4 linked regions of the Homo sapiens genome follow. The protein of the gene in region 3 purifies or fractionates together with the protein of the main gene of each other region. This does not show direct contact. Each region holds a gene or a part of one and is shown on either strand. Other genes may lie near its edges. The genes, in order: GJA1, WWP1, USP9X and LATS2.

The links.
Region 1: the proteins of USP9X (region 3) and GJA1 purify together in Homo sapiens (affinity purification with western blotting; 2 studies listed by BioGRID, with this or other methods). This does not show direct contact.
Region 2: the proteins of USP9X (region 3) and WWP1 purify together in Homo sapiens (affinity purification with western blotting; 2 studies listed by BioGRID and IntAct, with this or other methods). This does not show direct contact.
Region 4: the proteins of USP9X (region 3) and LATS2 purify together in Homo sapiens (affinity purification with mass spectrometry; 4 studies listed by BioGRID and IntAct, with this or other methods). This does not show direct contact.

Annotation. Positions count from the first base shown.
Region 1 is NC_000006.12:121,430,903-121,438,645, forward strand, and holds the start of GJA1 (gap junction alpha-1 protein), read left to right. Parts: upstream 1-4,743; 5' UTR 4,744-4,930; intron 4,931-7,743. UniProt on the Homo sapiens protein: Gap junction protein that acts as a regulator of bladder capacity. A gap junction consists of a cluster of closely packed pairs of transmembrane channels, the connexons, through which materials of low MW diffuse from one cell to a neighboring cell.
Region 2 is NC_000008.11:86,345,532-86,352,565, forward strand, and holds part of WWP1 (NEDD4-like E3 ubiquitin-protein ligase WWP1), read left to right. Parts: intron 1-7,034. UniProt on the Homo sapiens protein: E3 ubiquitin-protein ligase which accepts ubiquitin from an E2 ubiquitin-conjugating enzyme in the form of a thioester and then directly transfers the ubiquitin to targeted substrates.
Region 3 is NC_000023.11:41,214,430-41,221,463, forward strand, and holds part of USP9X (ubiquitin carboxyl-terminal hydrolase 9X), read left to right. Parts: intron 1-138; coding exon 139-280; intron 281-1,469; coding exon 1,470-2,223; intron 2,224-2,790; coding exon 2,791-2,914; intron 2,915-3,942; coding exon 3,943-4,168; intron 4,169-4,672; coding exon 4,673-4,802; intron 4,803-7,034.
Region 4 is NC_000013.11:20,974,553-20,981,586, reverse strand, and holds part of LATS2 (serine/threonine-protein kinase LATS2), read left to right. Parts: coding exon 1-121; intron 122-1,789; coding exon 1,790-1,896; intron 1,897-6,222; coding exon 6,223-6,717; 3' UTR 6,718-7,034. UniProt on the Homo sapiens protein: Negative regulator of YAP1 in the Hippo signaling pathway that plays a pivotal role in organ size control and tumor suppression by restricting proliferation and promoting apoptosis.

The sequences.
Region 1 (7,743 bases), on a different chromosome or scaffold from region 3:
ACCCCAGAAACTTATCTTTTGAAAAAGGGATACCAGCACAAGTGGTAATACGATGAGAAATCTTCACTGCTCTGAAAGATGTAATTGACCAACAGTCACATAAAGAACACATTTTCTGGCAAGTTTTACCAATTTGGGTAGAGCACTTCTAAACTTGCAAACTTATGACTTCCAAATTAACTTTTACTTCTTTCTTGCTGTCTGGTAAACGTTAGTTAAAATGGAAATTTGGTGCATAGAAAGGATTATTCTGATGCGAAGGAAAGGAAATCTGTAAGATAATGCCATCTTATCTCATTACAAAATCAACCTACACCCGCCTAGTCTCAGATAGTCTTTCTATTCTTCTACAAATGCCTTGAATTGCCCCAGAGGGATTGCAAATTTTCTGATTCTTCTTCACTTACTTTCATCTCAGCCAGCTGATAACCTTAGCTACTTTGAGAAAATACCTTCAAACCCTAGTTTCATGCGGCCTATACTGTCTGAAAACATTTTCTTTATGTTGCACTCATTCTCTTTTTAACGGAGTAGCTGTCCTTTCAAAGTTAACTACTCCTCCAGTGCACAAGTAATATTTTCCCACAAATAAGCCCACTTGTAGCTATTTTAAATACCTTTCCCTTTCCCAGATGTTACCTTGCCTCTTTTTTCATTCTTTTTGTCTGCATTAAATGAGGAAATCCACCAAGGCTGTGTGTGTGCTTTTTGGTACACTGCCTATATCCCATCTCTTAGTAATTTCATCTGTACCTGTGGCTTCTAATTACAAATCTTTTTTTTTTCTTTCTTTTTTTTTTCAGATCCTCTCACCTCAGCCTCCTGAGTAGTTGGGACTACAGAGGCCTGCCACTATGTCTAAATAACCTTTTTATTTGTTGTAGACACAGGGTCTCCCTATGTTGCCCAGGGTGGTCTTGAACTCTTGGGTTCAAGTTGTCATCCCACCTCAGCCTCCCAAGTGCTGGGATTACAGAGTTGAACCACTGTGTCTTCCCAATCACAAATCTTATAACAATTTTTTTTTTTTTTGAGACTGAGTCTCACTCTGTTGCCCAGTTGTAGTGCATTGGTGTTATCTTGGCTCACTGCAACCTCCACCTTTCAGGTTCAGGCAACTCTCGTGCCTCAGCCTCCCGGGAGGCTGGGACTACAGGTGTGTGCCACCACGCCCAGCTAATTTTTGTATTTTTAGTAGAGACGGGATTTCTCCATGTTGGTCAGGCTGGTCTCGAACACCTGACCTCAGGTGATCTGCCCGCCTTGGCCACCCAAAGTGCTGGGATTACAAGCATGAGCCACTGTGCCCCGCTGTAACAATTTTAAAGTGAACGCCACAGCTCCTGTTTTAAATTGTCAGTCATCGGTCTTTACCTAGATATTTCAGTTCTTCATACCAAAATATTTCAAACAAATCTTTGTATCTCTTTCAGCAGGTCAGTCCCTCCCCGAGCTTCCTTTTTTTGTGTTAGTAACATTTTCCCAATCAAAACTCCAAAAATCGGTTTCCACAGCCTCCTCTTCCTTGTCTTCCCATTCATCCATCATCAAGTTCTGGTAATTCTACCTTCCTTTCCTTTCTTTCTGCTAGTATTGCCTTTCAAGTTCCTATAGCTTACTGCTCTCCCATTACAATACTCTTCTTACAAGTCTAATCCGGAGCCACCAATTATTTAACGTTTATGCTACTCAATGAGGTGAAAGTAATCCATCAGAGTTTATGTGGGATAGGCATTTAAAGGCCTTAAAAATCACTCCATTCATTTCTTAAAATTTCAGAAATTCCTATTTTGAAACAAAGGTAAAAATCCAAAAAAGGAGGTGGTTCTCATATTAAGAAATATTTCTCACAATTCTGAAAAAAACTTACCCTCCATTGTGCCAACAATGTGCATTTTGCAAAATATATATAGCTACATGGAGAAAACAGAATCAAAGGCCTGGCAGGTCATTTGGCCTAAAGAAGCCCTGCAGAAGACAGAAACTGTAAATAACTGTTTCTAGTTCTCCAAAGAGCAGTGTTAATCAGGCTGCATCCATTTCTTCTACATAGACAAGGTCTGGCAATCAGAGAAGACACAGTTCTAGGAAGTCAGTGTTTATATTAAAGAAATGGCATTGACATTTCTGAGAATATGAGAAAAACACATTTAAAAAAAAAAAACTATTCCACAATTTTTGCAAAACATTCCAATGGAGACAAGCTTCTAAGGTCAGATAAGTGAGATACTTTTGAACAATTTTGCTATTGATAAAAATATAACTCACCAACACTGCTAGAGTATGAGTTATAATAGAAGTTGCTACCTGTCATTTAGAGACCCTGTTAGTTGTCCATGAGAGAAAACTGTGGGGCCTTTTGCAAAACCTAGTTTGTCTTGCACATGATTACTCATAGCATTGCATTTCAGTGCCATTATCCCAAAAGAAGAGAAGCTTCTTCAGAATGTCTTATCAATGATATTTTCATGAAATCATGTTGAGATCTTGTATCAATGATCATGGAAAAATGATTTTAGAAAGAAAAGACATAGTACGTTCATGTATTAAGAGAAGTAACTAATTACTGGCTCATGCTATGAGTAATTCCTTTGGCTCAGAAAATAGTTCAAGTGATATCCATGAATAATTTAACTTGTTATAAGGAAGTTCTTTAGCTCTATTTCCAATTGGTCACATAGGTAATAGATTAAAAAGAAAAGAATACTTTACAAGAATATTTAAACATCAACATTCATCTATAGACCTAACAAAACATAACAGAAATAAACACAATTTTTTTTGCTTTAAAAATCCTATTATAAAACAGTCAATGACAACTTTTCTTTCATGTAACTTATTCTGAATTAGCATCATGGTAATGTTTTTTATAATTGTAGTTGATAAATAATTTTACAAAAATAAATTGTTATGTAAATTAAATGAAGCATACTTTTTTGAAAAGAAGACATGTATTTTCTTACGATAAAAAGAATAAATCATTTTCATGAATATGTTCTAAGTCCAATGAAATAATTTTTAGTTAAGACAAAACAATAGATTTATTTAAAGAACAATATAAATACAAGACCAAAACAACATTTATAGGTTGCTGAACCTGAAGACTCGAAAGTCAGGTTACAATTTCTACTTCCAGAAGATTGTTTTTCCCCTTTCTTAATTTAAAGAAAAATGTACTCTTGGAAATAGGATAGCCAACAAGTAAAAGCAAAATTGTTCCTTAAAATTGCAACATTTGGGCCCAGCGCGGCGGCTCACGCCTGTGATCCCAGCACTTTGGGAGGCGGAGGCCTGTAATCCCAGCCACCCAGGAGGCTGAGGCAGGAGAATCACTTGAAGCCGGAAGGCGGAGGTTGCGGTGAGCAGAGATGGCGCCACTGCACTCTAGTTTGGGCAACAAGAGCGAAACTCCGTCTCAGAAAAGAAAAAAAAAAACCTGCAACATTTCAAAAGATGTTATATTAGTCATTTCAGTGAAAGTTTAATTAGGGAACGGTGTCTACCAGAATATATTTGGCATCCTTCTTTTTTCTGGTATTTGCCTGAGTGAGAAAAGTGTTAGGAATAGGAAGGCCAGATGAGTTTGCTTTCCCTCCAGAGAATACTGGCCAAGAAATTTCCTGTCCAACCTCAGGAGCATCACTGAAGCCTGTTTATGAGGAATTGTCCTACCACAACACTGTGTTATGGCATTTGGGAAGCCCTCAGAGGAGCTGCCTGCTCTAAGATTGAGGCCACATGACTCAGGCCATTATAAACCCTAATGCAGAGCCCTGAAGAGGGAGAGCATTTGGAAGGGGATAGGGAAGCACATAAAGATGATATGCTCAGCTTTACTGTCGTTGGGCAGAAAACTCTCTAGTGGGCTTGAGAGGGGGAACTGATTTTAAGGAGGGCTGAATAGTTTGGGAACCTACTTAATGCAACCATAGTCTGTATTTTTAAAATCCTCACATTTCACTACAGATTTGGGTTTTAGTGTCTTGGCATAAATAGGGCCTTAATATAAATTCTTAGTTTTCTGGAGACATGGTAGAGGTCAGATATCAAGATTTCATAGGCAAACAAAACATGCTATATATGTAAAAAATGTATATACACACACAGCCTTTTGCTAAACTGAAAGAAAGTAAAAATTCAAAGCAGTCAAGGGGTTGAAAGATGGATTGGGTATGGACTTTTCTTCATCTATGTCAATTTTTGAAATCTCTCTCCCATCTCCACCATTCCCTTTGTTAATTGTCCTTGCTTACATTTAAAGGAAGGGAATTAGATCATCAAACAGGTCACTCACACCTACCTCTAACTTCACACACCTTGGTCAATGTGAAACAAGCTTGAACTGGTTATATGCTTCCCCACCATTTTTATTTATTGTAAGCTACTTTAAAAATTTTAGACAATGTTGTAATAAAAATATACACCTTTTTCCCCCATTATCCCTGGTCTTCTGGTGAAGCAAGCAGTGTAATCAATGATTCTTATGTGTGAGGAGCAACTCCAAGTAGAGGCGTTCATGTCCCTAATGCTTTTTTATTTTTCCTCATCAGCAAATTTAAACTACAACTTTATCCTGATCCCACTGCTGCTCTTTGCCTCTTCTCCCCCCAGCCCTTCCACATTTACCAGCCTCCTCCCTACCTCCTCCCAGCCTTTCCCTTTGCCCTCCCCTTTCTTCTAGCCCCTCCTCCCAGTTGAGTCAGTGGCTTGAAACTTTTAAAAGCTCTGTGCTCCAAGTTACAAAAAAGCTTTTACGAGGTATCAGCACTTTTCTTTCATTAGGGGGAAGGCGTGAGGAAAGTACCAAACAGCAGCGGAGTTTTAAACTTTAAATAGACAGGTCTGAGTGCCTGAACTTGCCTTTTCATTTTACTTCATCCTCCAAGGAGTTCAATCACTTGGCGTGACTTCACTACTTTTAAGCAAAAGAGTAAGTTTTTAAAAAATGAGAACACGTTACCTATTAGTTTCTTTTTCTACAAGTAAAACTTTTCTAAAGTTTTAAAATGTGTTAAATGTAATTTTGAATTATGATACTGTAAATGGATTGATGGATTTGAAAGTGTTTCTATAGTTTTAAAGTTAAAATTTATTGTACCAAATATATATTTTGACTGTTAAAAAAGTTTCTATTAACATTGCAACAGGTGAAAAGGTTCAAACCTTTCCGATTAGAATAAAGGATTAGTTTACTGGATGTTTGGTTTTTCATTTTAGAGTATCATTTTATTTTGTTTTTTTTTTGTAATCAGTAATAGTCTAGGTGCTATCATTTGTTGGGTGGGGGGGGGGCGGTTAGGCGCCTGGGTTGGGGGATTTGACTGACTACATCGGAAAAATCAAAGTGCAAATTTGCTTAGCGTGCTTCCTATAGTATTCTACACTTCATAGAATAAAGTGCTTTTTTCATATGGAAATCTTGATTGATGTTCTATAGCTTTGCAAAGCCAACTTCTTTTGTGACGAAGTGCTTTGTTAAAACATCGTGGTTACTTGACTTCCACGTGGTTCCTTCCTAGAATTTTCCCCATTAAACAAAAAGGTATAAAATTCAAGAGTATTAATATTATGCTTTAAAAATCAACAGTAAATTGTTACTTTGTGTTAGCAACCGCTATGGAAAGATTTGAGACCCTCAGGAGAGACAGCTTTTACTCGACCACGTTGGCAGTTTAGGAGATGAAATCTCTTGAATGGGTGGTGGCTAGTTACAGAGCATTAGAGATCAGACGTTTAAAAAAGAGTGTATGCCAGGGTACTTTTCCAAAACCGTCTCCTAAAACGGGAGCTCCTAGAAAGAGCAGGAAAAAAACTTTCTTAAACAGCGCTTTGGGAGCTCCCCCCGCCAACACCCGCCGCCCCGCACCTTCCCTCTGCTCGAACCTGTAACAGAATTCAGAACTCTGGGGCAGTTCTTTGGAGTTGGAGCTCCTAGGGCAAAGATAACGCTAATGCGTTGTTTAAAAGGGTTCAATTTTTAAAATACTTTTATTGGTAACACCCATTCTGTTCATCAGAAATGCAGCCATGCATTTTTGTGCCCGGTAAAGATTTTCTGTTCTGTGTAAATCTACAAACTAAAATAATTAGTTTAGATTCTTGACGTGACCCTGCAGTGGAAGTATTTGCACCAGTGAATGCTGAAAAGCAAATAAAAATGAAAGCTTTGCGGAGGCCGTGGGCCGGACGGGCGCGGGGCGCCTCCTGCCATCTTAGCGTCTGCCGGGATCCTTCCCGCGCCTTCGCTGCCCGAACCAGCTCGGTCTTGGGACGTTTCCCCCAAATCCTCACAAGTCAAATCGAACTCAGGTCCGAGTTCGTCACTGCAAAGGAACCCGGGGTGCGGGGTGGGAGGGATAGGAGGAGAGATGGGCTGGGTGCCAAATGGTAGAACAAATGGTTGATTTAATTAAAGTTGTCAATCTAATTTCCCATCCCTCTCACACCAGCCCTTTTTTTTTTTCTTTTTCTTTTTTCCTCTTAAACTTGCTGAATCCCACTATCTCCGCGTTGGTAAGAAAACCTGAATACCTTGGGAATTGTGCTTAAATTGCACTTGCAACTCCCCTGGAAGTTCCTGAAACTTCCCGAGAATGAGGCGGGGCGGCTCAAGGGGAAAGGGCAGGGAGGAGAGACCCTCGGGAAGCTGATGACGCGTCCGGGGCAAGTCAGCCTGTTTCCGAGACGCGCGCCTCACGGTCGTAGCAGCGCTGCGCCCACCCTGCCCCTTTAGTGACCCAGCCAGCCTTTGCTGGGGGTTTCTGATAACGCTCATCGATAAGCTCTCCTTGCTCCCAAAAGGCGTGCTTCTCTTTCTCTCCAGGTACAAAGTAGGGGTGGGAAGGGGAGAGCTACACAATGTTGTAAAAAGAAGCGTGGCTTTATTTGGAAGACGGTTGAATTTCTTTTGCTTCCTCGACCCAGTTAGTAACGACAAGAAAGATACTGAATATCGCCCTCCGAAAATCGGGCGCATTTGAACTCGGTGAAAAGTGTCCCTGTGAGGAAGCCTAATGTTTACTTTTGTGCAAGGATAACTGGAAATTAAAGCGTCTAGTAATGCAGAGATTTCATTAAGCGAGCGCTCCCCTCCCCCCCGCGCCAGGAATGAAATAAGCCAGTTAGACAGAAAACACTTTTGGGAGAAGACTAATTACTTCTGGGTAGGCCGAATTGACTGGAAATTATACCAAGCAAAGGCAGTACATTCCATTCCGTCCTGGCGATGTTGATTCTATATTATTAGAACATTGTTCCCCCAGTGTGGGGGTGCTTTGTACTTCCCAAAGTCAGGGTAGACTGGTTACCTGGGAAAATGCAGTGTTAGTGCTTTGCTCCTACTTTCTTCACTGTTTAAACATGTTCCACATTTTTCTAATGCCTTCTGAGGGTTCTCAACCCAGCCACTGAGTTCCTCACCCTTGGCGACTGTGATACCAACAATGCTGTCACCCTCCTTGGGAAACATGGTTGCAAAGATGCTCCGCAGGAGGCAGATAAAAGGCTGTGCTTTCAGATACTGAAGGTTGCTTTGTTACTTAGATGTTTCCAATTCCTGCATAGAGAAGGAGGGAAAACACGGGGTGCATTCTTTCTTTTCTTTTCTCTACATCCAGGGGTGTAGCTTGGTTTGAGCCTTTATATATGATACCCGCAGGGAAGGGAATGATAGGACAGTCACCAGTGATTAATACCTTCCACTCCGCCTTTCCTGTTGTTCTGACTTATCTTCAGGATTCTCAG
Region 2 (7,034 bases), on a different chromosome or scaffold from region 3:
CCCGAATAGCTTGAACTACAGGCGCTTGCCACCACACCCGGCTAATTTTTGTATTTTTTTTTTAGAGATGGGGTCTCACTATTTTGCCCAGGCTCGTGTTGAACTCCTGAGCTCAAGTGATCAGCTTGCCTTGGCCTTCCTAAGTGCTGGGATTACAGCGTAAGCCACCCTGCCGGGCCTACTGGGAGCTTTTTAAAACAGTAGAACCTTCAGGTTCTTCTGTGTACTGATAAGAACTCTTACTGTAGAGATATGCTGTATATATACAGAAACACAATATTACATTTGTGTTGTGGTTTACAGTTTACAGAGAATTTTGACTAATGTTATTTGCTATTATATTACACAATAAACTATTCCTGGAGTTTAAATGATTTGCCTGAAGCATCATTCAGCTGGTGGGTAAAGTGGAATCAGGAGATTGTTGACAATGATGGTGTTCTTTCATGTATGAAGATAATGCAGTGGCTTTACCATCAATTAAATATAGTTACTGCCTTTAAATGACCTTGTCAGTAAGACTAGATGATCCCACAAGATTCCTTCTAGTTTTTAACATTTTGTGATTCTCGAGTCCTAGACTTTCATCAGAGTATCTACTCTCCTTGTTTAATATGTGCATGAGAGCTGGTGAGTCTGAGGGATGAATTGGGTAGAGAAGAGCAGTTAGCAATATCAGATCATTCATTTGGATTGTTACTTTCTTTGTATGTCTCACTTTGGGCTGGGGAGTAGGGAGGAGAGAGGTGATGTAAGTGAAATAAGAAACTTTAAGAACTTTATTGGGAGGCTGAGGCAGGAGGATGGTGTGAACCCGGGAGGCGGAGCTTGTAGTGAGCCGAGATTGCGCCACTACACTCCAGCCTGGGCAACAGAGCGAGACTCTGTCTCAAAAAAAAAGAACTTTATCTTCTCTGTTCATTTATACCTTCAGAATATTCTTTTCTTTCAGGAAGCCTTTATCAAATAAAAATGGAGACTTCACAATGTAAATGAAGATTCCTACTCAATTTTTTTTGGGTGGATTAAGTAGCTAGCTAGTACGGTTAAAGTGTAGTGCGATTGGTAAACAGTTGACTTTTCTGCACCTGTAAGATTATCTCCCTGGTAATAGGTAATCATAGCATGTTATTACATGTTAATAAACTTTGATTTCATAATTATTAGAAAGACTGTTGTTTTTTACTCTTTGTATAAAAATATGATACAATTATAATGAGCATTGGAAAATCCAATAAATTGCCCTTTATAGTGGTATCCAAGGAACTAGTTACTAATACTTAATGGAGGAAAAATGATAAAAACATACACAGATGAATTTTATTGTTTTTGCTGGCATTAAGAATTGTACTATACCTTATGTTAGTATAGCATTTCACATTTGTAAATAATAACTATATTTATCATTTGGTTCTCATGACAACTGATAAGTTGGTGTGTTAGGAAGTAATAACTGCTTTATATTTTATTTTATTTTATTTTATTTATTTATTTTTGAGACAGGGTCTTGCTCTGTTGCCCAGGCTGGAGTTCAGTGGCACAGTCATGGCTAAACTGAAGCCTAGACCTCAGCCTCCCAAGTACTTGGGACTACAGGTGTATGTCATGACACCCAGCTAAATTTTTAAAATTTTTTATAGAGATGGGGTCTTGCTGTGTTTCCTCAGGCTGGCCTCGAACTCCTGGACTCGTGGCCCTCCCACCATGGCCTTCCAAAGTGCTGGAATTACAGGCGTGAGCCATCGCTTCCAGCCAATCATTGCTTTTTGGATGAATATGCTGAGGCTAAAAAAAAAGTTTAAAAAGTTAAATTTCCAAAGTATGTGGCTAGTTAGTGGCCACAATTAGAACTACAACTAAAACCCTTATTTTTGTTCCTATGTCAGTATTCTTTTCCCACCAGACTTCTTACTCTTCATGTACAATGGAACATCATTAGTTAAGAGCTGTATGTGAAGGATTTGAATTTACCTGTTTGGAATGTGTTAAACTTTTGTACCGTGTAGAGGTAAACTTGTCAGTTTTTTCCTTTGTGTTAAAATGGTAATCTCACTGCAGTGGCTATTGGTAGGTGATATTTAAATTTGTAAGCATTGTACCACAGAATAGTTATTCTCCTGTCAAGGATAAAGCAAAAGTTGATTTCTTATCTGGAAAAGTACATTGGTGAAATGTAGATATTTATTTTTTTGAAAATTTTGAATTTAATTCTGTTGCTTTTACAGATGAAGTTTGTGTTTCCCTTTTATAAAAGCTTAGTCTTCAAAAATTTACATTTTTTGAGGATATAAATGAGGATCTAATTTCCAAAATATATATAGATTGGGTATCCCTAATTCAAAGTTTGAAATGCTCCAAAATGGGAAACTTTGAGCCACCTACATTACTCAACAGAAACATTCACTGGAGTATTTCAGATTTTGGATATTTGGATTAGGGATACTCAACCTGTATCATGATATTTTATTATTTTTGTATTAGATCATAAGCTCTACCATTGAAAAAAACCCAAAGATATTAAAAAGCCCTCCTTAGTGGATGCTTCAATTCATACATTTAAACAACTTTTTTAGGGAATGTATAATGTAAAACCATACGTCAGATGGTTTTTAAGTTATAAGGAAGACTAGCATGGTTTTTAAGTTATAAGGAAGAGTAGCATTTGTTGATTTAGTCTTGACATTTCTTTTTTCTTTTTTTTTTTGAGACGGAGTTTCCCTCTTGCTGCCCAGGCTGGAGTGCAATGGCGCAATCTTGGCTCACTGCAGCTTCCGCCTCCTGGGTTCAAGAGATTCTCCTGCCTCAGCCTCCCAAGTAGTTGGGATTGCAGGCATGCACCACCACACCTGGCTAATTTTGTATTTTTAGTAGAGACGGGGTTTCTCCATGTTGGTCAGGCTGGTCTTGAACTCCAGACCACAGGTGATCTGCCCGCCTCAGCCTCCCAAAGTATTGGGATTACAGGCATGAGCCACCACGCCTGGCCGTCTTGACATTTCTTAAATCTACAGTTCACTCACAGCACATACTGGCGTACCTACTATGTGCCAGACATATTTCTAGGTGCTGGGAGTACAGTGTTGAGATGACAGATATGAAGCCTTTCCTCTTGGAACCTGGAGTTTAGTGGAATCACTAACATTAACAAGGGCATAGAACTTTATCTTCTCAGGTTGTAATTTTGCGGAGTGTAATTAATTATACCTCTCCTTTTTCTGGGGTTTGAACAAATTATGCAGAACACACAAGGAACCAGGTGAGTGTTGTTTCAGTTATGTACTGCTGTGTAGCAAACAGCCCTAAACCAAGTGACTTAAAACAACCATTTTCTTTGTTACAGTTTTGCTTTCCTGGGTTGGGCTCAGTTGGGCAGGTTTTGCTGGTGATCACTCTAATGGCTGCTTTTCTCTCCAAGTAGCCTTTCCAGCAGAGTTGCTGGCCTTACCTGGTAGCTGATGGCTTAGGGCTCACAAGAGTACAAAACAGAAGCAACCAGATCTTTTTTTTTGAGAGGGAGTCTCACTCTGTCACCCAGGCTGGAGTGCAGTGGCTCAGTCTTGGCTCACTGCAACCTCCACCTCCCAGGTTCAAGCAATTCTCCTGCCTCAGCTTCCCGAGTAGCTGGGATTACAGGCGTGCACCACCATGCCCAGCTAATTTTTGTATTAGTAGAGATGGGGTTTCACCATGTTGGACAGGCTAGTCTGGAACTCCTGAGCTCAGGTGATCTGTCCGCCTCGGCCTCCCAGAGTGCTGGGATTACAGGCGTGAGCCACCGTGCCTGGTCTGCAACCAGATCTTCTTAAGGTTTAGACTTGTAAGGGATACAGTATCATTTCTGCCTTATTATACTGGTTAAAGCAAGTCACAAATCTAGCCCAGGTTCAAGGGTACAAATGTGTGAATCCATTTGGGGCCACCCATGTAACAGATTACCATAAATTTTATTTAAGTATAACATCAGCTTTACTATACCAAAACAGGACTTACGGAAAACTGTTTTGGAAGCTGAAGCTTAGGCAGCTTACTACTTTCCGCAAATCTGGATTTTGAGTCTGAGCATGCCACAGGGAAAGCTGAGTCTAAAAAGTGCAAATGACAGCACATCTGGCTTACTACGCAAATGGGAATACCTAGCACTCTCCTTGGTTAGAAAAGAGGAGAACATTTGTGGCCTCTGAGGTTTTTCCTAGTGTGCCACCATAATAGGGTAGGATTGACTTGCCTTCTGCTTGAGGGCAGTGGGATCTAACAAAGTACAGGACCCAAGAGTCCATGCTGCTTGGAAGTAGTGATTTACCCGATCTCGTGAATTGGAACAGACAGCATCCCATGCAGAAAATGGGCCACAGATGGGCAGAGATCGATTCCCTCTGCCCTTGTGATTGGATTTGAGACCTAGGGGAGAAGGGTTTCTTGACTATCACTCTGGCCTTGACCAGAGTGAGCAACCTGTCCCCCACGCGCTCCAAGCCCCAATGGCATTTTCTGTTTGCAGTGTCTTGAAAAAGCTTGGGATAAGCTACTCTTCCTTGGAGAGGTGTCATTATAGTGGAGAGAATTCTCTTTCCTTCTAGAGACTGGAATGGTAATCCTCTCTTATGGAAATACAATGAATAAGGTGCTGCTTCTCCTTTCCAAGAACAGGTAGATTCATTGATTGCTATCTGGGTTTTTCTCGCATTATCACTTAACCTTATCCACTATCGCTTTATTTTAGTCTTAGCAGTATTTTTTGTTTGTTTGTTTTTAGTTCAAGTTGGCTGCTAAGTAATGCCATGGTTAAAGGTGAAATGAAGAAAATGAGTGTTTAGTTTTTATTACATTATAGCTTCTGAGTGGAGTAGTGAATGCATTTCATTTTAAGAATTTAGGTTATTAGTGCATAGCTGCGAAGCATTTTTGAAGCATTTCATGTACACTAAAAAACGGGCCCCTGCATCCTAATGCAAATCTCTTTGCAAATTTCTGAAAATAGTACATTGGCTGTTGCGGGGAGGAGTTTGGTAATTGGATGTACTGAGAAACATGATTTATAGAAATAGGAAAGGCCAGGGCACAAAGAAGGGCACGGATAGAGTTACATGAAGGTGCTTCTTGATGGCTGTCCTCCCTACCCTAAATTATTTGGGTAGTTAAAAAATATCCTAGCATTAACAGAATGTAGGTATGATAGCCTTTTAGGAAACAAGGAAAACAAGTTCTTTTGATAGCTGTTCAGTATACTCATAAATCTGATTGACTGGGCTGGGTGGAAGCTGACTGTTGAGTCCTGACTTGAAATTAGGATACTGTGGTTACACATTAGCCCCAACTTGCCAAGATGTCCTACTTTTTGTCTGTGTTTAGTTAGACTGGGGAGGAGAATTAGTTAAATGAACCTGTTTTGTATAAAGTAGGATATTCTTTACCTTAGAAGTAAACAAACTAGATTGTTCTTCTCTTTTTAAGTTTTTAACGGTAGAGGCACTTTTGGCATACAGGTTAAGAGTCACAGTTTAAAGTCAGGCAGACCTGACTTCTGGTAGTATTGCTTAATGGCAGGATTGCCTCAGTTTCTTCTTTTGTAAAATGTAAAGAATACCATCCTTAATGGATTTTTGTAAGGATTAATTGAAATAATGTTTATAAAGCAGAAAGCATGGTGGCTAGAACGTAAGCCCTTAAATCATGTTTATTGCTCGTAATTCAGTATTATGAAGTTGAAAATTCAAACAAGTATTCACTTTGCTGTGAGCTACTCATTTCTCAAAGACAGTTCTAGCTTCGTTTTGGCATGGGCAGAGCTCCTTATCAAATTTCCACCCCCAGCTTTTTTTTGAGACAGGGTCTCCGACAGCTCTGTCTCCCAGGCTAGAGAGCAATAGTGTGATCATGGTTCATAGCAGGCTTGACCTCGGGGGCTCAAGCAATCCTCCCACCTCAGCCCCACAAGTAGCTGGGACTACAGTTACGCACTAACATGCTCAGCTAGTTTTTTTTTTTTTTTAGTAGAGATGTTGCCCAGGCTGGTCTTGAATTCCTGGGCTCAAGTGATCCCCCCTACCTCGACCTCCCATAGTGCTGGGATTTACAGGCATGAGCCACCAGGCCTGGCCAAATAAACAAAAAAAAAGTTGCTAAAAGGGTAAGCACGAAATCTGGGATACTGACTTAACATGGCTGGCAATATATCAGCTAGTGATGGTTTTGCTGTGCAGCCTGGGAACAAGAAATCATTAACACCATCATTAGATGAAATATTGTATTGACCAGTGTTTGTCAAAGCGCAATCCTTATATAACAGTCGTCTGGGATGCTTATTAAACATGTTGATTCTTGAGTATCCTTTGAGATCTCTGATATGGTCCTTGAGAGTGGAGCTTAGGGATCTTCATTTTTTGCAAATATCTCAAGAGATTTTATGCACATTAGTTTGAGAACTGTTGGTAGAAACTGAATTGGTTATTTGGGGTCCTAGTGTGCTCTGTCAGAGTTCATTTTTCTAGCTAGCTAGCTAAAATATTCCTTTTTTTTTTTTTTTTTTGAGAAAAGGTCTTGTTCTGTCACCCAAGGCTAGAGTGCAGTGGCAAGATCATGGCTCACTGCAACCTTAACCAACCTCCTGGGCTCAAACGATCCTCCCACCTTAGCCTCCCTAGTAGTTGGGAGTACAGGTGTGTGCCGCGACACCTAGCTAATTTTTTATTTTTATTTATTTATTTATTTATTTTAAGACAGAGTCTTACTGTCACCCAGGTTGGAGTGCAGTGGCGCTATCTCGGCTCACTGCAACCTCTCCCTCCCAGTTTCAAATGATTCTTGTGCCTCATCCTACCGAGTAGCTGGGATTACAGGTGCATGCCACCAGGCCCAGCCAATTTTTGTATTTTTAGTAGAGACGGGATTTTACCATGTTGGCCAGGCTGGTCTCGAACTCCTGGCCTCAAGTGATTCACCCGTCTTGGCCTCCCAAAGTTCTGGGATGGATTATAGCCATGAGCCACCGTGCCCTGCCTAATTTTTTATTTTTCTTAGAGATGGGGGTCTTACCT
Region 3 (7,034 bases):
AAACCTGCACGTTGTGGACATGTACCCTAGAACTTAAAGTATAATTTAAAAAAAAAAGGCAAATGTAGTTTACATTAAGTCCATAACTAAAATGTTTACAAAACTAAGGGATAAATCCTTTTTTTAAATCGTTTTTAGGTACGAATGTGAAGAATCTTTTACGACCCTAAACGTAGACATTAGAAATCACCAAAATCTTCTTGATTCTTTGGAACAGTATGTCAAAGGAGATTTACTAGAAGGTGCAAATGCATATCATTGTGAAAAATGCAATAAAAAGGTACGGGCTGTCCAGTTTTGTTTAATTTTGATTACATTTAATGGATTTAGAAGAAATTGGTTTTTTTGGTTCATCCTCACAAGTCACCCTATTTTTATTTTCTCCTACTTTGGTATAGTGGTAGCAGAGAAGTAGTCAATATGATAACTAATAGAAGGTTTGGCAAGGAAGGAAAAAAAGTAGTGCCAAAGGGGCTAGGTAAATAAGATAAAAATAGGTAAATAAGAGTGAATAATTTTAAAAGTCATAACGTGATAGCACATTCTCTTATATAAGTTACACAGACACTTTCCATCTCTACCGAGAAACAAATTGCCATTGAACCCCTCAAAGATACAGAGCTGATAGAGGAAAACATTTCTCCTGTCATGTCCAGGATTACTTGTCAAGACCAAAACATTTGCTGAAACCATTAATTACTTTATTGAACCACATAAGATTTCTTTTAGACTAGTCAAGTGGCCCATAAGATTTCTTTTATCACCTATGTTATAAAACCATTTATTTTGGAAACTTATTAGCAGTTCTTTGAGAGAGATGATTCACACGCATTATAGTAATGAATAAGGTGTATCTTTGGGAGCTCCCAAACCCTTTCACCCTCAAGTCACTTGTGTTGTTTTGGCCTTATGCACCACTTAGAGAAGTCCTGAAGTTTAAAGATTGAGATTGTGGGCTGTAAAGCCATACTGCCTGCCACCTGCAGCTCCTGAGACCTGAGGCAAGTTACTTGACCTCTCTGTGATTACTAGTTTTCATCTTTTAAGGTTCAGTAGTACACACTTGAGAAGGTTGTAAGGATTCGGTATGTTTTTACTTGTGCGGCACTTAGTATATATTACCTGGCATCTGAATTACCCAACAAATATTAGCTACTCTTATTGTTATTGTAGTTCTTTGGTTTGTGCATAGGAAACCACCTTCGTGGGAACAACAGTAAACATCAAACAGGTAATAATGGCTAGATAACAATGACAGAAACCAGTCAACAATTTACCATTTGCATATTATTAATTTCAGCATTTAAATCAGCTGATAGGATTATCTTGATTATGCTCATTGTCATGTATTTGTTTATACTTAAAAATTCAGATAAGTCTTAATATCATTTAAAAGTTTGCTTGGGGTTTTTTTTTTTTTCCTGTGGATTTTAATAGAACATCTGGTAACTTTGTCTTGTTTATTTTAGGTTGATACCGTAAAGCGCTTGCTGATTAAAAAATTACCTCCTGTTCTTGCTATACAACTAAAGCGATTTGACTATGACTGGGAAAGAGAATGTGCAATCAAGTTCAATGATTATTTTGAATTTCCTCGAGAGCTGGACATGGAACCTTACACAGTTGCAGGTGTCGCAAAGCTGGAAGGGGATAATGTAAACCCAGAGAGTCAGTTGATACAACAGAGTGAGCAGTCTGAAAGTGAGACAGCAGGAAGCACAAAATACAGACTTGTGGGTGTGCTCGTACACAGTGGTCAAGCGAGTGGGGGGCATTATTATTCTTACATCATCCAAAGGAATGGTGGAGATGGTGAGAGAAATCGCTGGTATAAATTTGATGATGGTGATGTAACAGAATGTAAAATGGATGATGACGAAGAAATGAAAAACCAGTGTTTTGGTGGAGAGTACATGGGAGAAGTGTTTGATCACATGATGAAGCGTATGTCATACAGGCGCCAGAAAAGGTGGTGGAATGCTTATATACTTTTTTATGAACGAATGGACACAATAGACCAAGATGATGAGTTGATAAGATATATATCAGAGCTTGCTATCACCACCAGACCTCATCAGATTATTATGCCATCAGCCATTGAGAGAAGTGTACGGAAACAGAACGTACAATTCATGCATAACCGAATGCAGTACAGTATGGAGTATTTTCAGTTTATGAAAAAACTGCTTACATGTAATGGCGTTTACTTAAACCCTCCTCCCGGTGAGTATCAAGAGAGTTTAGCTTCTTAGTAATAAAGAATAATTTATAGTAGGCGTCAACATGTTTAAGTTCATAAAATTAATGTTTTCACTTTAAATGAGTCTAATTTGCTGGGTGTGGTGGTTCACGCCTGTAATCCCAGCACTTTGGGAGGCCGAGGTAGGTGGATCACCTGAGGTCAAGAGTTCAATACCAGCCTGACCAACATGGTGAAACCCCATCTCTACTAAAAATATAAAAATTAGCCAGGCATGGTGGCATGCACCTGTAGTCCCAGCTACTCCCTGTAGTCCCAGCTACTCCGGAGGCTGAGGCAGGAGAATCGCTTGAACCTGGGAGGTGGAGGTTGCAGTGACCCAAATTGATGGCCACTGCACTCCAGCCTGGGTGACAGTGAGTCTCCATCTCAAAAAAATAAAATAAAAAAATAAATGGGTCTAAATTAAAGTAGCCTGAGAAGGGTTCTTAACAAATTTAGGACTTCTCAAAATTAATGGAAACACAGACTTGTTTGAAAATGGGGTTGGAAAATAAAAATGTGTTTTTATATCTGCATTTTATTTATAGGGCAAGATCACCTGTTGCCTGAAGCAGAAGAAATCACTATGATCAGTATTCAACTTGCTGCTAGGTTCCTCTTTACTACAGGATTTCACACAAAGAAAGTAGTCCGTGGCTCTGCCAGTGATTGGTACATTGCTTTGGATTTTCATTCCTATTATACTAATGTTTGGTTTGCTTCTTTAATAGATTGCTTTATGTTTTTCTAAACCAAGAGAATTTTGTTTGAAGTTTGGAATATAGAATAAAAACTCTGGGTCACAATAGAGAAATCATATTAAAATAGTTACTTAGTCTAAACATGGCCTTTTGTTATTCAGAAGCTGACTTCTGCTTCTATTACCTTGTATCATATCTTTGACATCCCTGCACCAAAGACTACAAGCTGAGACTGGGGGACAGTGACTCACACCTGTAATGCCAGCACTTTGGGAAGCCAGGGTGGGAGGATTGCTTGAGCTCGGGAGTTCAGGACCAGCCTAGGCAACATAGTGAGACCCCCATCTCTTCAAAGAAGATTTTAAAAATTACCCAAGTATGGTGGCGCACACCTGTAATCCCAGCTACTCGGAAGGCTGAGGTGGGAGGATCGCTGGAGCCTGGGAGGTTGAAGCTGCAGTGAGCCATGACTGTGCCACTGCACTCCAGCCTGGGCAGCAGAGCAAGACCCTGTCTCAAACAAAACCAAAGATTACAAGATGAGACTGAAAAGTGTAAGCTACTTATGAAATTTATTAGGTTTTAGCTTACCTAGATTGAATTCTGACACCGATTAAAAGGGTAAAAAATTAAAATGGTTTTCTTAAGTTTCTAATTGTGAAAGTATAGAGGCCATTATGATACATTGATTTAATAATTTTTACTTACTCATTTCAGGAATATGTCAAGATAAGGGGGTGGTATTTTGTCATTGAATCTAGGAAGAGTTTGTTAATGGATTTTTAGAGGACAAGCTTTCACCTGTTTGGTAACTCTGAGAGAATAGACCAAGTCATAGTATTTATCTATTGTTTTAATATTAGAAGCAACCTTTGCTGGTTCTCTCCAGCAGTAGAGGAAGATCTTTGTCTTTTTTTTTTGGTTCAATGAGACTCATCCTTTTACTATAGAGAACAAGTTATTGACTTAATAGTCATAGGTTTTTTTGTTTTATTTTAGGTATGATGCATTGTGTATTCTCCTTCGTCACAGCAAGAATGTACGTTTTTGGTTTGCTCATAACGTCCTTTTTAATGTTTCAAATCGCTTCTCCGAATACCTTCTGGAGTGCCCTAGTGCAGAAGTGAGGGGTGCGTTTGCAAAACTTATAGTCTTTATTGCACATTTTTCCTTGCAAGATGGGCCATGTCCTTCACCTTTTGCCTCTCCTGGACCTTCTAGTCAGGTAATTGCACAGCTTTCTTTCTAAATGATGAGATGTTTACAAATAAATTGTGTTTCCTGGAAGTCGAAGTCACAAGCATATGTGCATCCACTTGATATGTTTACCTAACAGAAACACACAATATGATGTCAGTGAGTTCCATTTAATATTACTGCATGGCAATGAATAGTAATTATTGGCTCTTTAAAAATGTAAGAGAATTTTCTCTGTTCGGTTACATGCAGTAGCTTAATTATAAGTTTACTGTTAAGTAGATTTTTTCCTATTTTGAAGGTTTTTTAAATAGTCTTAGATTTTTTTAAAAAATTACAAGTGTAAAAAATTATAATGAAATCCGCCTCTGATCTTCATTCCCTTTCCCAAGAAGCAAAATAGTTTAGTTTGTGTGATCAGTCCTTCCATAAATGTATGCCTGTATCAGCATATGTGCATGTCCTTTTTATGCAAGTAGAAGTATACATATACCTTGTTGCTGTAAAACAGGTAATGTTTTATCCTTTACAGGCTTATGACAACTTAAGCTTGAGTGATCACTTACTAAGAGCAGTACTAAATCTCTTGAGAAGGGAAGTTTCAGAGCATGGGCGTCATTTACAGCAGTATTTCAACCTGTTTGTAATGTATGCCAATTTAGGTAAGAATTTAAGTTTTTCAGAATTCTGTTTTGATGTATCATATTAAATTGTGAAGTCATTTAGGTCAAGTGATGAAATATAATCTGATCTGAAGTAGAAACAATTTCCCATAAAACCTGTTGTGAATTTTATCTGAACATGGCACTTTCACCTTTTACTTTGTTTATGCATGTGTCTTTGTGGTAGACACAGGTCAGAATCTGTGTTTTGATTTTTTTTTTTTTTTAATCTCCTAATGCAGTGGTGCCAAATCTGGCTGCTTTTGGAAAATACTGGTTTCTAGGCCTCTTCTCACACTGATTGAATCAGCATCCCCAAAGCTAATGTCAGGGAATCCATGTTTTCAAAGGGGTCCCCAAATGGTTGTGATACTCACCAAATTTAGATAGCAGACTTGGTCTGTACATAAGTTTTTGTTTAAGTAAACTACAATTATGGATAATATAAATACTCGCTTAAAATATTAATTTAGGGGCCGGGCACAATGGCTTATGCCTGTACTCCCAGCACTTTGGGAGGCCAAGGCAAGAGGATTGCTTGAGCCCAGGAGACTAACCTAGGCACCATAGGGAGACCCTATCTCTACAAAATAAAATTTTAAAATTAGCTGGATGTAGTGGCATATGCCTGTAGTCCTAGCTACTTGGGAGGCTGAGGTGGGAGAATCACTTGAGCTAAGGAGGTTGAGGCTGCAGTGACCCGTGATTGCACCACTGCACTCCAGCCTGGGCAACAGAATGAGACCCTGTCTCCAAAAAGCAAACAAACCAAAAAGTCATATATCCAAAATGAAGTTCTATATCCAGGCGTACCTGTCGTTTCAGGTTTTTTTTCTGTGATCTTACTTAATCACCATTGGATCCATGGCCCTTTTAACATAAGGGAGATTGTACTTTTCATTTGTCTATTTAGTTTGTCTTCTTTTCCCTTGTCTTTTCCGTAATTGCAGATATTTGGGTATTTGTAGATGAGAAAGAGAATATTTATTACACAGACAAGCATAAGTGGAATCTGTATTTCAAACTTAAAAATGCCAAATTTAGACATTCAGAAGAATCCTATTCTGTTCAACTCTTTTAGATATTGCCTGTTCACAAAGCACACATCATTGTTCCATAATGTAACCTACTTGTAAAATTTTCCTGCTGAAAACAAATACTGTAGGGCCTGTAAACCTTAATATGAAGTCCTTAAGATCAGATATGCATTGGGATTGAGAATTGTTTGGATTTAAGAAAAGCAAGGCAGTGCATATACCAACATCTCTATAGCAGGGTCTGAGACAACAACTTACAATTGAACACATTAATATTTCTACAGTAAAATATGAATATTTATACTGAAGGGAGAAATAAAGACTATAAGTAGCCTTTAGTCAGTTTGGGCTAGGTTATCCCACCAACCACATTTTGACAGCAACTTAATGAAAAACTTTGTTGGGCTGGGCGAGGTGGCTCATGCCTGTAATCCCAGCACTTTGGGAGGCCGAGGCAGGCGGATCACCTGAGGTATGGAGTTCAAGACCAGCCTGGCAAACATGGCGAAACCCCATCTCTACTTAAAAATACAAAAATTAGCAGGGCGTGGTGGCGGGCATCTGTAGTCCCAGCTATTCGGGAGGCTGAGGCTTGAATCTGGGAGGCAGAGGTTGCAATGAGCCAAGATCGCGCCACTGCACTCCAGCCTGGGCAACAGGGCAAGACTCCGTCTCAAAAAAAAAAAAAAAACTTGTTATAATAATAGCTTTTGGGCCAGGCGCGGTGGCTCACGTCTGTAATCCCAGCACTTTGGGAGGCCGAGGCAGGCAGATCACAAGGTCAGGAGTTCAAGACCAGCCTGACCAACATGGTGAAACCCCGTCTCTACTAAATATACAAAAATTAGCCGGGCGTGGTGGCACATGCGTGTAATCCCAGCTACTCAGGAGGCTGAGGCAGAAGAATCGCTTGAACCCAGAAGGCGGAGGTTGCAGTGAGCTGAGATCACACCACTGCACTCCAGCCTGGGAGACAAAGCGAGACTCCATCTTAAAAAAAATTAAAAATTAAAATAGCTTTTGGAATCTTAGGATTTCAGATAAGAGGTTGTGGACCTGTTTTTATTATGTTTTTGGGAATATGGCAATAAATAAGATTGTCTAATGGGATATAGAAGCAAATAATGTAGTTGCCATAAAATATGTTAATAGCTATAATAGGGAAAATGCAAAGTGCATCACGGGGGGCATGGTA
Region 4 (7,034 bases), on a different chromosome or scaffold from region 3:
CGGTGTGGGGACAGGCTGAAGACCCTAGAGCAGAGGGCGCGGAAGCAGCACCAGAGGTGCCTGGCACATTCACTGGTGGGGACTCCAAACTACATCGCACCCGAGGTGCTCCTCCGCAAAGGTACATGCGCCATGGCCAGCCACCCCGCAGGAGGTCTCCTTCCCTTCAGACGTGAGCTGAGTCTCGCTGGCTCTAGCTTTCCAAGGACCTAATGCTTCCAGTCATATTTTTGTCCTCATAGAAGCCTGAAAGCTACTAATTTCTGCAACATACAAGCCTCCCTCCTGTCCTGGAAGTGCTCTTGCTTCAGGGGGTTGGAAGACATGCACCATTAGACCAGTGTCTGCTGGCCCTCGGGCTCTACCTAGACCCAAGGGAATGACTCCAGCCCTGATTTTCACAGTCAGATGATGGAAACCACTCTGAGGGCCACAGGACCTCTGCTCAGTCTGCCCAGACCACACATTTCCGGGCTCTAGCTTTAACTTCTGTCTCAGGCTCCTGGCTGAGTTGTGCCGTGTGCAGCTGGGTGCTTATGTGACAGCGTTGGAAGATCCTTTTTCTCTCATTCTCCCTGCTAGACCATAAGCAAAAGTGGCAGGTGCCAGTTGTGTAAAATGACTAGTGCTCATAACATTTGCCTCCTGGATGGATGCTTCATTCTGTCAAATGCAACATCTGGTTCAGTATAGGAGGAATCCTTCAGTGATCCTGCATGGTCCACAGTGACAATGGGGTGTAATTAATCCAGAGACAGGCAGCCCCTGCCATCACATGTTGTTTAAAGTCCTTTGGAGCCAGCCAGACTCAGTTCAAGTCTGGGTTTTCTTTGCTAGCTGTGGTAATCCAGCACAAGTTACTTAACTACTCAGACCACAGACATAGCAATAACGACCTTGAGAGGTTGTGAATAACCTTGGTGCCCAGTGAAGGTCTACTTCCCTCTACCACGTGCAGCATTCTCAAGAAACCATTGCTTGGGGTTTTTCTGCAGCCTCTGTTGCCAAACTTGGACAGGAAGAGGTGGGACGGAGAGATAGCAGAGGGGCCTGAGGGGGCTACCCTGGCATATGCAGCTGCAGGCACCCGCAGACTGACCTCTTAACATCCCAGTTTATACTTAGCAAGGATTAGGTGACATGAAGACGATCCTGGCTTGATGGGTCATGAGGCTCTGAAGGAAAAGTGGGAGAAAATAAGAGGTAAACGAGCCTAGCCTACAGCCTCCCAGAGGCCAGCCCTGACCCAGCACAGCTGGGAGCCCCGTGAGGAAGGCCCGGCTCCGTAGGGGCCTCACACAAGGAGTGTTTGGCTTACAGTGAATTGTCCGGTGGGTTTTGCCCACCTCCTCCTCATCTCCGTATTCTTCAGCTTCATCCAAAACTGACTTAGAAGCCTCCCTTGACCCTCACCTGACTATTCACAGGTTATAGCACTTTATGTTTTTCAGTTCTGTTATTTTAATTGGTGCCTCTGTTTGTGATCTTTAAGAACATAAAATTCTGGCTAGTAACTATTTGCTAACAATAAAAATAATCTTTTTAAATTAAAAAGTATTTTCTTATTACAATGATTAAAAATACAAAAACCTAAGCGGCCATGGCCACCGCCCCCCACCACCCCACCCAGTAGTATCCAGGTACTTACATAGGTCCATCTTGCGCACAGTGCGATGCTTCAACGCGCTTTCCCACTTAACAGGAAATCTGTATGTTCAGCATCTTAATGAAATTCACCTCGGAGGAGAATTCATGCCTGTGTAGGGATTGAGTGAACTTTGTCTTGCAGGGTACACTCAACTCTGTGACTGGTGGAGTGTTGGAGTGATTCTCTTCGAGATGCTGGTGGGGCAGCCGCCCTTTTTGGCACCTACTCCCACAGAAACCCAGCTGAAGGTAATGTGAGAGGAACCACGCATCTGCTTGCTGTAGACATCTGATTTGCTCATGTACCCATGAATCTTTGGTCAGCATTTGCCCTCTTATTCTGAGTAGGGTAGGAATGGCAGTTGTATAGGATGGGATTTTTAAAAATAATCTCATTATTTTTTAAATTATCTATTTTTAAATTTTCTATTTTGATAAGCAAAGCCATGGAATTGGACCCATTTTAATATCTGAAATTCTATTAAACCCTTGGCCATCTGCCACCTTGCTATTTCCAGGCAAGAACAGTGAGGATCAGCAAAGGTGTGCTGCTGATCCACTGTCTCCCCCACCCACACCTGCCCTGCAGAGAACACACGGAACTCCAGGAACTATAGTTCACCCCTCAGCAATGAGGGGTTTGGGGTGCCAAACCCCCTGCACAGTCAAAAATCTGCATAACTTTCAACTCCCCAAAAACTTTACTAATAGCCTGTTGACTGGAAGCCTTACCAGTAACATAGCGTCAATGAACACATATTTTGTATTTTATATGTATTAGATCCTGTATTCTTACAATAAAGCAAGCTAGAGAACAGAAAATGCTGGCCAGGCGCAGTGGCTCATGCCTGTAATCCCACTACTTTGGGAGGATCATAGGCTGGGCGCAGTGGCTCATGCCTATAATCCCACCACTTTGGAAGGCCAAGGTGGGCAGATTACCTGAGGTCAGGAGTTCAAGACCAGCCTGGGCAACATGGCGAAACCCGTCTCTACTGAAAATACAAAATATTAGTCCATCATGGTGGTGTGCACCTGTAATCCCAGCTACTCAGGAGGCTGAGGCAGGAGAACCACTTGAACCCAGGAAGCAGAGGATGCAGTGAGCCGAGATCACACCACTGCAGTCCAGCCTGGGTGACAGAGTGAGACTCTGTCTAAAGAAAAAAAATCATAAAGAAGAGAAAATAGGTTTACTATTTTAATAATTGAAAGTGGATCATCATAAAGGTCTCCATCTTTGTCATCTTCATGTGGAGTGGGCTGAGGAAGGGGAGGCATTGGCCTTGCTGTCTCAGGGATGGCAAAGGTGGAAGAAAATGCTAGTGTAAGTGACCCTCAAACTGTGTTGTTCAAGGGTCAACTGTATCTAAAGAAAGCAGTTTCTTTATTTGGATATTATATCATTGTTCGCAAACTGTCAGCTATGTGGTCAGGCTAGTTGTGCATATTCCTAATATTCATTCAAAGTAGTTAAATAATTGTCAGTCATTTAATACTAAATTATTAGTTTTAAAATGACAGCCATTTGCTTTCTGAAATGAGTTACTAAGGGTTGAACTGAGAATTGAAATTAAGAATCTGCAGTCTTCTGTGGACATACCAACTGACACACAGTCCTTGGAATTTTCACATGCCCTGGTGGTCATGTGAGCCACCAGGGCATGTGGTTATTAGGCCAGGGAGCCTAAATTAATAACTTTAATTAGAAAATCTGTCTAGTAAGGTTGGGCGTGGTGGATCATGCCTGTCATCCCAGCACTTTGGGAGGCGGAGGCGGGCAGATTACGAGGTCAGGAGATCGAGACTAGCCTGGCCAACGTAGTGAAACCCCGTCTCTACTGAAAATACAAAAAATTAGCCTGGCATGGGGGCGGGCGCCTGTAGTCTCAGCTACTTGGGAGGCTGAGGCAGGAGAATCGCTTGAACCCAGGAGGCAGAGGTTGCAGTGAGCCGAGATCACGCCACTGCACTCCAACCTGGATGACAGAGCGAGACTCTGTTTCAAAAAAAGAAAAAAGAGAAATCGAAAAACCCTAAAGTAAGGCTTAGTTTCACTCTAGGAACAGTAAAATTGGAATCTGGCATTATCTGCGCCCTAATTGAATGGCTGAGCTACTCACTAAATTGCCCACATGATAATTCAGATTTTTTTATTCTGGTAAAATATACATAACATAAAATTTACCATCTAATTATTTTAATGGTAAATTAAAATTTACCATCTAATTATTTTAATGGTAAATTAAAATTTACCATCTAATTATTTTAATGGTAAATTAAAATTTACCATCTTAATTATTTTAATTACCATTTATTTAATAATTATTTTAATTATTTACCATTTTTAATTATTTTAGTGTATAATTCAGTGACATTAAGTACATTCACAATATTGTGCAACCATCACCACCCTCTATTTTCAAATGTGTTAATCGTCCCAAACCCATTAAACAGAAACTCCCCACTCTCCTTTTCAGCACCTGCTCGCCTCTCTTCTGCTTCCTGTCTCTGTGAGTTTGGTTATGCTTAGGACTTTTTTTTTTTTTTTTTTGAGACAGGGTTTTGCTCTGTATCCCAGGCTGCAGTGCAGTGGCACAATCTTGGCTCATTGCAACCTCTGCCTTCCGGGTTCTCATGCCTCAGCCTCCCAAGCAGCTGGGATTACAGGTGCCTGCCACAACACCAGCTAATTTTTGTATTTTTAGTAGAGATGTGGCTTCATCATGTTGGTCAGGCTGGTTTCAAACTCCTGACCTCAAGTTATCCACCCACCTCAGCCTCCCAAAATGTTGGGATTATAGGTGTGAGCCACTGTGCCTGGCCTCGGGACTTCTTGTAAGTGGAGTCATGCAGTATCTGTCTTTTTGTGTCTAGTTTATTTCACTTAGCGTAATGTCCTCAGGGTTCATCCATTGTTGTAGCTTCCTTTTTAAGGTGGAATAATAATTCCACTGTATGAGTCCCTGCTTCCGGTTCTTTTGGATATAAACCAGAAAGTGGGTTTATATCCCACTGGATTATATGGTCGTTCTGTGTTTAACTTTTTGAGGAACTCCCAAACTGTTTGCCATAGTGGCTGCACCATTTTACATTCCCACCAACAGTGACTGAGTGTTCAGTTTCCCTACATCCTCAATAAGTATTTTCCTGTTTTTGTTTTTTTTAAGTAGTAGCCACCCTAGGGGATGTAAGGTGGTATCTCATTGTGGTTTTGAGTTGTATTTCCCTAGTGTTTAATTATATTGAGCTTATTTTCATGTCCTTATTGGTCATTTGTATATCTTTGGAAATATCTCCTCAAGTCCATTACCCTTTTTAAATCAACTTATTTGGTTTTGTTATTGTTGTTGAGTTGTAGGAGTTCTGTATTTTCTCTGGGTACTAACCCCTTTTCAAATACATGTTTTGAAATCTGTTCTCCCATTTTGTTGCCTTTTTGCTATCAGTAATGTCCTTCGATGCACAAAAGTTTTAAATTTTTATGCAGTCCAATTTATTTTTTCTTTTATTCCCTGTGCTTTTGGTGGCATGTCTAAGAAATCATTGCCAAACTCAGGTTCATGAAGATTTCACCCTATGTTTTCTTCTAGGAGCTCTACAGTTTTAGCTCTATGAAAACAACTACTTAGGTTCAAACCAAGCCTACCACCCACACACCCACTAACTTCCATGCCTTATCCGCTGTCCCATCACCCCAGCTGGTAGCCAGTCATGTTGGCCTTGTTTCCTCCTGATTCTAAGTGTAAACAATAAAGAAGTCCCCTAGGTTTTGTCTTCACAGTAGACACATCTCTACAACAAGTGCATTTACTGAACGTCCAGATGGCTGGTTTGTGCAGTTGAGCATGTAAGGTCACATGGGGTCAGTCAGCTTTATTCTTCCCTATGAAGTTTTTCCTGTTTGTTTTTCAAAACCCCAGTTGGCCGTTTTTTGACCGCAATAAGTATTTGAATGAGCGTCATGATGGTTTGCAGAAAGCCATTGCCATAGCTAAAGAAATAACTTTAGCTGATCACCTGAGGTCAGGAGTTCAGGACTAGCCTGGCCAACGTGGTGAAACCCTGTCTCTACTAAAAATACAAAAATCAGCCGGGTGTGGTGGCAGGCGCCTGTAATCCCAGCTACTCGGGAGGCTGAGGCAGGAGAATCGCTTGAACCCAGGAGGCGGAGGTTGCAGTGAGCCAAGATCGCACCACTGCACTCCAACCTGGGCAACACAGCGAGACTCCATCTCAAAAAAATAAAAAGAAAGAAAGAACTTGTAGACCATCATTCTCTTCATTTTTGTGGAAAGCACAAAATTCTTTGGCTAAACAGTATTTCTGATAGAAGAAAATCAGTATCTTTTTGTCTGTATTTGACTGGTCATCCTGGCCTCAGGCTGTGAGCCATCGACTGAAATGACACTGACTTTTTGTGGCTGCTGAGATCAACAACTGCTGCTTGTGTCTATTCTAACTCCTCTCCTATTGTGAAACTAAACATATTTGAAAGTCACGTCATCACACGCTGTCCCAGAACTGCCCAAGATGTGAGGAGAAACTAACCTGTTGGCTCTGTTGTTTCCTCAGGTGATCAACTGGGAGAACACGCTCCACATTCCAGCCCAGGTGAAGCTGAGCCCTGAGGCCAGGGACCTCATCACCAAGCTGTGCTGCTCCGCAGACCACCGCCTGGGGCGGAATGGGGCCGATGACCTGAAGGCCCACCCCTTCTTCAGCGCCATTGACTTCTCCAGTGACATCCGGAAGCAGCCAGCCCCCTACGTTCCCACCATCAGCCACCCCATGGACACCTCGAATTTCGACCCCGTAGATGAAGAAAGCCCTTGGAACGATGCCAGCGAAGGTAGCACCAAGGCCTGGGACACACTCACCTCGCCCAATAACAAGCATCCTGAGCACGCATTTTACGAATTCACCTTCCGAAGGTTCTTTGATGACAATGGCTACCCCTTTCGATGCCCAAAGCCTTCAGGAGCAGAAGCTTCACAGGCTGAGAGCTCAGATTTAGAAAGCTCTGATCTGGTGGATCAGACTGAAGGCTGCCAGCCTGTGTACGTGTAGATGGGGGCCAGGCACCCCCACCACTCGCTGCCTCCCAGGTCAGGGTCCCGGAGCCGGTGCCCTCACAGGCCAATAGGGAAGCCGAGGGCTGTTTTGTTTTAAATTAGTCCGTCGATTACTTCACTTGAAATTCTGCTCTTCACCAAGAAAACCCAAACAGGACACTTTTGAAAACAGGACTCAGCATCGCTTTCAATAGGCTTTTCAGGACCTTCACTGCATTAAAACAATATTTTTGAAAATTTAGTACAGTTTAGAAAGAGCACTTATTTTGTTTATATCCATTTTTTCTTACTAAATTATAGGGATTAACTTTG